Homo sapiens: one gene and its partner. The protein of the gene in region 1 purifies or fractionates together with the protein of each later gene. This does not show direct contact. Each region holds a gene or a part of one and is shown on either strand. Other genes may lie near its edges.

Evidence for each region. Proteins that work in one complex are often made in the same cells at the same time.
Region 2: the proteins of PLCB1 (region 1) and GNA11 purify together in Homo sapiens (affinity purification with western blotting, with the first as the bait; one study listed by BioGRID). This does not show direct contact.

Annotation. Positions count from the first base shown.
Region 1 is NC_000020.11:8,137,822-8,143,193, forward strand, and holds part of PLCB1 (1-phosphatidylinositol 4,5-bisphosphate phosphodiesterase beta-1), read left to right. Parts: intron 1-5,372.
Region 2 is NC_000019.10:3,100,862-3,104,361, forward strand, and holds part of GNA11 (guanine nucleotide-binding protein subunit alpha-11), read left to right. Parts: intron 1-3,500. UniProt on the Homo sapiens protein: Guanine nucleotide-binding proteins (G proteins) function as transducers downstream of G protein-coupled receptors (GPCRs) in numerous signaling cascades.

The DNA of each region.
Region 1 (5,372 bases):
TTAATCTAATAAGCTATTTTTACTTTGAATGAAAACTTTAAAAAAAACCTCTTCAGCCTAAAACATTTTTATTATTGCTGAACTGATCCTCTTGAACAACAGCAACAAAAGTGACTTACAGTCAGTTTAGATGGCCATTGATTGGGTTCTTGTCTGTCCCAAGTCTGGGAAGTATAGCAGGTATAGTAAATGCCCTGAAGGAGCAAACAGTTCAACAAAACCCTAGTAATTTACAGAGGAAATGTAATGCCTTCAGGCTGTTATTGGCATGGCAAAGCTGACTAGTACAGTACTGTTGCTGGAATATAATTTTCTCTCATAGGTTTTCTCTCTTATCTTGCTTAACACTAATATTTCCCCACCTATGGTGAATGAGGATAATTTGCAGTGGCTATTAGTTTCATTTGAAAGTTTAGCCTATCAGTAAATAGCTTCAAGTTATATTTATCTGCAATGGTATATAAATGGAATGGGAACATTTTACTTTTTTATGTGGGATTTGGTAAACTGTAAATGTTTCCTTATCAGAATTGTTTCATGTTATCATGAACAAGAATCGCCAGCAGAAAATGGAAGGGGATTGCTGGTGAATTGTTGACTAACGCTATGGGTCTCCACTTAAATAACAAACCCCTGGTAACTGAAATCATTGGTCTTCTTGTTACTGGAGCTAATAATTAGGTTCATGCAACCTTTCAGATCATATCATAAATTCCAAATGCTCAGGCATATTTCACAGTCTTTTCCATCTAATCTTTTCCCTTTCTGTTCTATGTCTGATCCCCCTAAGCAGAGCCTTGTGCCCCTATGTGTAAGTAGGCAAAGGAAATATAGACATATTTCTGAGGTCATTTACATATATGACCATAAAAAAGCCATTGATTTTTGTAACTAACTAACTGAAATAGGATATAAAGGAACTAACTAATTGGAATAGATTATAAAGGATGCTTATGTTCTTTAAGAGTCTCTCTGGTTTTCCTCTGATCTCTTTAAGAGCTAATGTTCGATTTTATTATCATTACCATGTGTTAATTCTCAAAATTTTTATTTCAATTTGTATTCCAAAAATGGTTTGCATGTACCTATTAATTGAGGTTGACTAAATCTATGCATTTATCAAGAAACTAAATTATTATAAATTGAGTAACAAACTATTATATAAAATTGGAAAAAAGTTATTTTTATTTATACTAAAATTATTTTATTTATATTAAAACAGAAATAAAAGCATCCTACATCTGTCTTTTATTTCAAGGGTTTTTTTTTTTTTTTTTTTTTTTGAGACAGAGTCTTGCTCTGTCACCCAGGCTAGAGTGCAGTGGCACCATCTCGGCTCACTGCCAACCTCTGCAGCCGGGTTCAAGCTATTCTCGTGCCTCAGCCTCCGGAGTATCTGGGATTACAGGCACATGCCACCATGCCCAGCTAATTTATTTTTATTTTTATTTTTAGTAGAGACGGGGGTTTTGCCATGTTGGCCAGGCTGGTCTGGAACTCCTGACCTCGGGTAATCTGCCCACCTCGGCCTCCCAAAGTGCTAGGATTACAGGTGTGAGCCACCGCACCCGGCCTTCAAGGGCTTTTTTTGTTTACAATATTTGGTTAATGTTCTGTTTCTTTTTACTGAATTGACGTTTAATGTACAAGATCACAGAAAGTGGATTAGTTAGTAAAGAAAACATTTACCTGAAGTAGTCACATGGATATCAATATATAGCATTGATATCTAGAAGATTAAGATATTATTTTGCCATTAAAAAAAACATTTTTTTTGGAAGTTGTCTATGAAATAGTTAAGAGTAAGGGAAATTTAATTTAATTTTAATCCATTTTATAGAAGAAGCCATACAAGCTCATGAAGCTGGAAAACCATAGAGCGAATCAGCAATTGATCTGGTCAAAAAATGTTAAAGATGCCAATCATGATCCTCCCCAGGTGTGCTGTGTTGGATATGGTTGAATCTCACATAGCATCGATTCCTACATCCTCTTAGTAGGACTTCTTATAATACAAAATCTGGACTTCTAAAGCTACATTTACCAGACTCCTTTTTGACGAACATTCTTCTTGAAAATTAATATTTCCACCAAATAAATTCATGCATATGAGATATGGAGGGCAGAAACATTAAAGGGGCCAATTTCCTGCATCCTTTGGGTTGTTTCTACAGATACGTGAGAAGCTAAAAGAGGTGGGACTTTCTGTAATAGTTCTTCAGTGTCTCTGAGAGGCAGTGGTGACAGTGGCCACTCCCTGTTGGCAGCTTACACTTCTTTGGCTTCAACAAAGCTGGTGTTTTGTTTGGACCCCGGGAGTTCCTTCTTGATTTCTCACCTTTCTGAATGTGGTAGATACAATAGCTCTCCCCAAGGGTCTGTGCTGCTATGTTCTGAGATCATTCATGGAGAGCCAACCTAAAGCCTGCTCCTCCAACCCTTCCAGTTTTTCTGTCAAGTGCTTACTTTATATTAAGTCCCTTTATCTTCAAAATTCAAGAGAAATTTCTGTTTCTCGCACCAAATCCTGGCTGATATGGCCTTTTGCGGTTCTAGGATTTCACAGCTTTCAGTCCTAAATATAATAATCATCTAAGTATCCTACATAGTTTTCTCCTTCAGTACTACTGTTGAGTAAAATGAAGTTTTGCTGTAATATTTCCTCTGGAATTCAAAATCCAGACTAAGTCCTAATAGCAGGCATTCATGCTTATATAGCAGCCCTGCTTACCCCTGTTCAGTCATTAAGACCACCTCGGGTGGTAGGAAAAAGAGCAAGCGTTTGTCTTTTGCATTTCACGTAGAAGCAAATCGAGGCTAGTGATTGTGATTTGTCGAAGGGCACATAACTAAGTAGATCTGGAATAGGAATTTAAAACTACGTCTTCTGGCCAAATTCAGTGTCCTTTCCAGTCTACCATGATGTCCCCGAACAGGGTCCTTTTAGTAACAACAACAACAACAAAAAACTTTTTATTTTTTTATTTTTTTTTTTAGACGGAGTTTTGCTCTTTTTGCCCAGGCTGGAGTGCAATGGCGCAATCTCGGCTCACCGCAACCTCTGCCTCCCCGGTTCAAGCGATTTTCCTGCCTCAGCCTCCTGAGTAGCTGAGATTACAGGCTTGTGCCACCACGCACAGCTAATTTTGTAGTTTTAGTAGAGATAGGGTTTCTCCATGTTGGTCAGGCTGGTCTCAAACTCCTGATGTCATGATCCACCCGCCTCAGCCTCCCAAAGTGCTGGGATTATAGATGTGAGCCACCGAACGTGGCCAACAAAAAGCTTTTAATAGAGTCTAAATGAATACAAGTTTGAAGAGATTGATAGACTTTTCCAAAGAATCTCTGTTATTTTTAGGATTCATACATATGAAGCTTAGATCCCTGCAAACTCAGTTTTTGAGCTATTGTCTTCAAAATAGCTCTTTTTCATGGTGTATGTACAGTCCGTTTTTGTCTACACTGTGCAAGATGTGTGAGCATTGGAAAACCTCATTGCTGCTTTGAGACAAAAAGGGCAGGCCAGCCGCAGTGGCTCACGCCTGTAATCCCAGCATATTGGGAAGCCAAGGCAGGTGGATCACTTGAGGTCAGGAGTTCAAGACCAGCCTGGCCAATATGATGAAACCCCGTCTCTACTAGAATACAAAAATTAGCTGGGTGTGGTGGTGCACACCTGTAATCCCGACCACTCGAGAGGCTGAGGCAGAAGAATCACTTAAACCCAGGAGGCAGGCAGAGGTTTCAGTGAGCCAAGATCGCGCCACTGCATTCCAGCCTGGGCGACAGAGCGATACTCCGAAAAAAAAAAAAAAAAAAAGGAGGGGGCAATGTATGCTCTATAGTCTTTAAAGATATTCTACATCAGTCAGTCAGCGTGGAAACATGCATGTGGAAAGACAGGTATTCAGGTATGGTGTTAAAGGTCTTTTTTTCATTGTCGAGTAAGTGACATTTCTGCATTCAGCAAGACTCTTTATATCTGTTACTCCACCTTTTCTTCTTCTCGACATACGTGTAAATGTTGTCTTTTGCTGATTCCTATTTAGGCTTGTCCCATGGCCTCTCATAGAAATCATGGACCATGGAAGAACAAGAATATGGTAGACATGAAGGAAATGTAGAGGGTGAGTTGCCTGCTCTCAAGCACGATGCAGAATGCAAGACAGTGTCAACTGAGAGGCCAGATCTATATTACTTGTGCAGGGAGGTAGATAGGCCTTGTTTATATTACAACTAGAGCAGGACTTCTGGAGGGCTATAGCTTTATAATTATCATTATTATTTTTTTCCCTAGGGGAGAGCATAGGCCTGGCACTGGGAGGTGCTGATGCTCAGGGGATATTTGTGGAATGAAGGAACTGTCTGGTGTTTGTCTGGCTCACAGTGGGTTCACACAGGGGAGTGTGCAGCCTTGAGGCAGACCTGGAGGGCAGTCATGCTCCTATGAGACCTTCGTGACCTTTGAGGTGTTGTGTTACATTGGTTGGAACACCTTGCTCCTTGTCCTTCCATTCCATCTGAAATCTCCTAGGGTCCTAAGGGACTCTGTGACCTTCTTAAATGGGATTTCTCCATGTGTGTTTGAGAAGGAAACTATTTATTGGCAATGCAGAGCTCACTGCTGTTACAGTGCTGATTTCATTTAAGGTCCAAATATGTCTTAAGATTGAGTGTATACTACACTGCAATTCAATATTGGTTGAAGGTGATGATGCTTAATGTATTTATTTCTCATATTCTAAATTTTACCATTAGTTCCTATTTTCTGAAAAATATGCTCACCCATACACCCAAATATTGCAATGAAAAGCCCTTAAAGAAATTCAGAAGCGTTGGGAGTGACAGAACAAAAGATGCATGGTTGTGAAAACATCCTATCACGATAATGATTCACAAAGAGAAAAAAGAATACTTGTGCTTTATTGCTAAAGTGAGAAAAGTAACAAGACATAGTTCTAAATCTGATTTATAATGAACTTCCACCTACACTATTCTTTGTGTACAGAGGCAATGGAAGTCCCTGGAACAATGCTTTTAATTTCCTCCTTTCTCCACTCCTCGTTTAATGTACTTGGGCCACCTCCATTATTCCAGCTGCCCTCCTGCCCCTGAGAAATACCTCACCTTCTGCATTTATATTTTGGAGCTCGACCTTCCTGGCATCTCTGAATCCTGACTTCATTATTATCTGACACCACTCCCCTTTCTTTTAACAGTGTCTATATGAGTTTCCCCTCAGTTGAAGCTTTCCTAAGAACATAGCAATATGCCTTTACTAGTAAAAATCCCAACCTCAAAACCAACACAATGTTCCCCAGTCCCTTTTCCTCCTTTAGTTACCGTCTTCTTCTTCATCTCCTTCCCTCTAC
Region 2 (3,500 bases), on another chromosome or scaffold:
CGGCAGACAGCGGGGAGGGAGCCCTCTTGTCCCCTGTGGCTGCCCTTCCTGCTGGCTGCTTTGCACCGAAAAGCTGCGGAGTAACCCTGGGCGGTGGTGCTCCCTGGATGGCGTCCACATGGGGACCCCAAGGCCTGGGAGGCTCCAGGAGGGACGGTGCTGGCCCAGGTTTCTGTCCCTGTCTGACCTCGGAGTTGGTGTTCTGGGTACCGCACCGTCCGGTGGCCCAGGCTCCGTTTTCTCTTCTGTCAAACTGTGTGGTCACCCTGATGTTTCAGGGGCCCTGCAGGGACGGAGTGGGGTGGGGGGCTGAAGGGTGTGGTCAAACTGGAGGGCGCTGTGTCTGTTGCTATTGTTAACCGTGTCCACACTGATGGGTGCTGGGCCCCGCCACCGAGCGGGACTTGTGCGGCCTGCAGAGATGTGGCTGTTCTGTTGCCTGTCTTAATCCCCAGGGACTGTGGGGCCAGGTCCACACTGTGGGATGAGTGCAGCCCCCACGGCTGTGGTGGGGCTGGGTCCACGCTGTGGGATGAATGCAGCCCCCAGGGACTGTGGGGCCGGGTCCACGCTGTGGGATGAATGAAGCAGCCTTTTCTCCAGCCACACTGGTTTGCTCGGCCTTAGTCCCACTGGATGCGGCGAGGGTTGACCGGTCAGGCCCTTGCTGGTGGCCTGGGTAGATGTCTGGAGAGGGGGCCTGGGCTCCGGACTCCTGCCCTTCCCCCATCAGTGATCCTATCCCACACTCTTTGGCGATGGTCAGTGAGCTGGGCAGGGGCGGGGGTCTGTCCCTGTCCCTCAGGTGGAGATGTCCAGGCCAGTGCCCACAACTGGGTTAGATGGGCTGCACAAGGCTGGGGACCAGTCTCCCAGGCTGTCGGGGGGCTTCAGTAATGGCTGTGGGAAGACCCAGCACGTGAGGAGACGGGAGCTTAGAAATTTTGTATGGCCAGGTGCGGTGGCTCATGCCTGTAATCCAAGTACTTTGAGAGGCCGAGTCAGGCAGATCACTCAAGTCCAGGAGTTCGAGACCAGCCTGGGCAACATGACGAGACCCCTGTCTCTACTAAAAATGCAAAAAATTAGCCAGACTTGGTGATGTGCACCTGTAGTCCCAGCTACCTGGGTGGCTAAGGTGGGAGGATCACTTGAGTCCAGGAGGCAGAGGTTGCAGTGAGCCGAGATTGCACCACTGCACTCCAGCCTGGGCGACCGAGGGAGAGGTTCTGTCTCAAAAACAAACAAACAAACAAAACAAAACAAACAAAAAAAAAACGTAGAAAACATGAGTGAGTGACACCATCCGCTTCCAGTGGAGGGGTGGGGTCACTCCCACTTGGGAGCCAGTCTGCACGGAAGCCTCAGTGGGAACAGAACAAGGTGGCATGGCCCCTGACCGGCGAGGGGCAGTTAGTATCTGCACCTTTGAGGCACCTGGGGACTCTGCTGCTGTGGAGATGGGATTGGGTTCCAGTCCAGAGGCTGTCCTGCCATCGCTGCCCCTGGCTGTCATGCCCCACCTGGGGTAGTGAGTTTCGGGGCAGCTCTTTCTTGAGCCTCAGCAGCGGGGTGAGCCGGGTGCACTTCCTCTCTCAGGGCGCCCCCTTGTCTTCTTGCCTCCCTGCCTGAGGGTGCGTGCTGGAGCAGAAGAGCACGTCCTGGGCTGCCTGCCGGGGATAAGCTGCGGAGCCAGGAGACCGAAGTCTCTTCAGGCCCTGCCATTAGGGGTCGTGTGACTTCAGGGAGGCAGCTTGTCCTCTCCGTGCCTCAGTTTCCCCTCCAGTCAATCAGGCGCTGAGGTGCTGTCTACCTCCTGGGGTTCTGAGACTGAAGCGAAGCAGGCATGAGGCCCCTTGTGAAGCTGGATGAGGGGCGTCCGTCCTCCGCTGCAGGAGGGCTGCCCCTCCTCGGGCCCCTGCGTCAGGTTGGTGCCTGGCTCTGACCCCACACCCACCAGTACAGCTCTTGGTCAGGGTTAGATTTCCTGGCTGTTTCCAAGAGCCAAGATCACAGGCACACGCATGCACACGCGTGGGCTGCCACCACCCGCCTTCTCATGGGTGCTGACAAACGGTCATGTGTATCCCCCAGGTGGGGCCCTGTGGCTCTGGCCTTGCTCCCGGTGTGTGCACTGGCCTGGCCTCCCCGCAGCCTGGTGGGGGCTTCCTGGCTTCTCGGCCCACATCTCACAGTCTTGGGCACTGTGGGGCTCGGCTCAGGCGTCGTAGACGGGAAGCAGCCTGGAACCCTGGAAGTCTGACTCCCAGGTGTCGGCTCCCAGGTCTCAGCCCTGCCACTGGGGTCATGGGTTACTTGAATCTTTATATACTTTTTATTTGTTATTTATTTATTTATTTATTTATTTTTGAGAGAGAGTCTCACTCTGTTGCCCAGGCTGGAGTGCAGTGGTGCAGTCTTGGCTCACTGCAACCTCTGCCTCCTGGTTCAAGTGATTCTCCTGCCTCAGCCTCCCGAGAAGCTGGGATTACAGGCGCATGCCACCACACCCGGCTAATTTTTGTATTTTTAGTGGAGATGTGGTTTCACTATGTTGGCCAGGCTGGTCTCCAACTTCTGACCTCAGGTGATCCGCTTGCCTTGGCCTCCCAAAGTGCTGGGATTACAGGCGTGAGCCACTGCGCCCGGCCTTGAATCTTTTTTTTTTTTTTTTTTTTTTTTTTTTTTTGAGACAAGGTCTCACTTGTCACCCAGGCTGGAGTGCAGTGGTAGAATGTTTGCTCACCTCTGTCTCTTGGGTTCAAGCGTTTCTCCTGCCTCAGCCTCCTGAGTAGCTGGGATTACAAGCGCCCACTGCCACACCCAGCTAATTTTTTTTTTTGTAAATTTTTTTTTTTTGAGACAAGAGTCTTGCTCTGTCGCCTAGGCTGGAGTGCAGTGGCACGATCTCAGCTCACCACAAGCTCCGCCTCCTGATTCACGCCATTCTCCTGCCTCAGCTTTCAGGCGCCTGCCACCATGCCCGGCTAATTTTTTGTAGTTTTAGTGGAGACGCGGTTTCACCGTGTTAGCCAGGATGGTCTCGATCTCCTGACCTCGTGATCCGCCCACCTTGGCCTCCCAAAGTGCCGGGATTACAGGTGTGAGCCACCATGCCTGGCCATTTTTGTAAATTTTTTGGTAGAGACGGGGTTTCACCATGTTGGCTAGGCTGGTCTTGAACTCCTGACCTCAAATGATCCACCTGCCTCGGCCTCAAAGTGCTGGGATTACAGGCGTGAGCCACCGCGCCCGGCTTTGAATCTTGAGCATCGGATGAGCCCCCAGCTCCTGCTGTCAGGGCTGCGCCCTCTTGTGGCGCTTGGAGCCTCCTTTTCTTCCGTTTTCCTTTCCCACCGGGGAAAAGGAAGCTGGGGCACGGACTTCGTTCCTCCTGGTTGGCCTCTCCAGATCTTGGCCAGCGGGTCCAGTCGGGAGGGTGGTTTTCTCCTCTGGAAGCTGGCTCAGTGGGAGCAGTGGGCGGACTCTGGCCCCTCCTA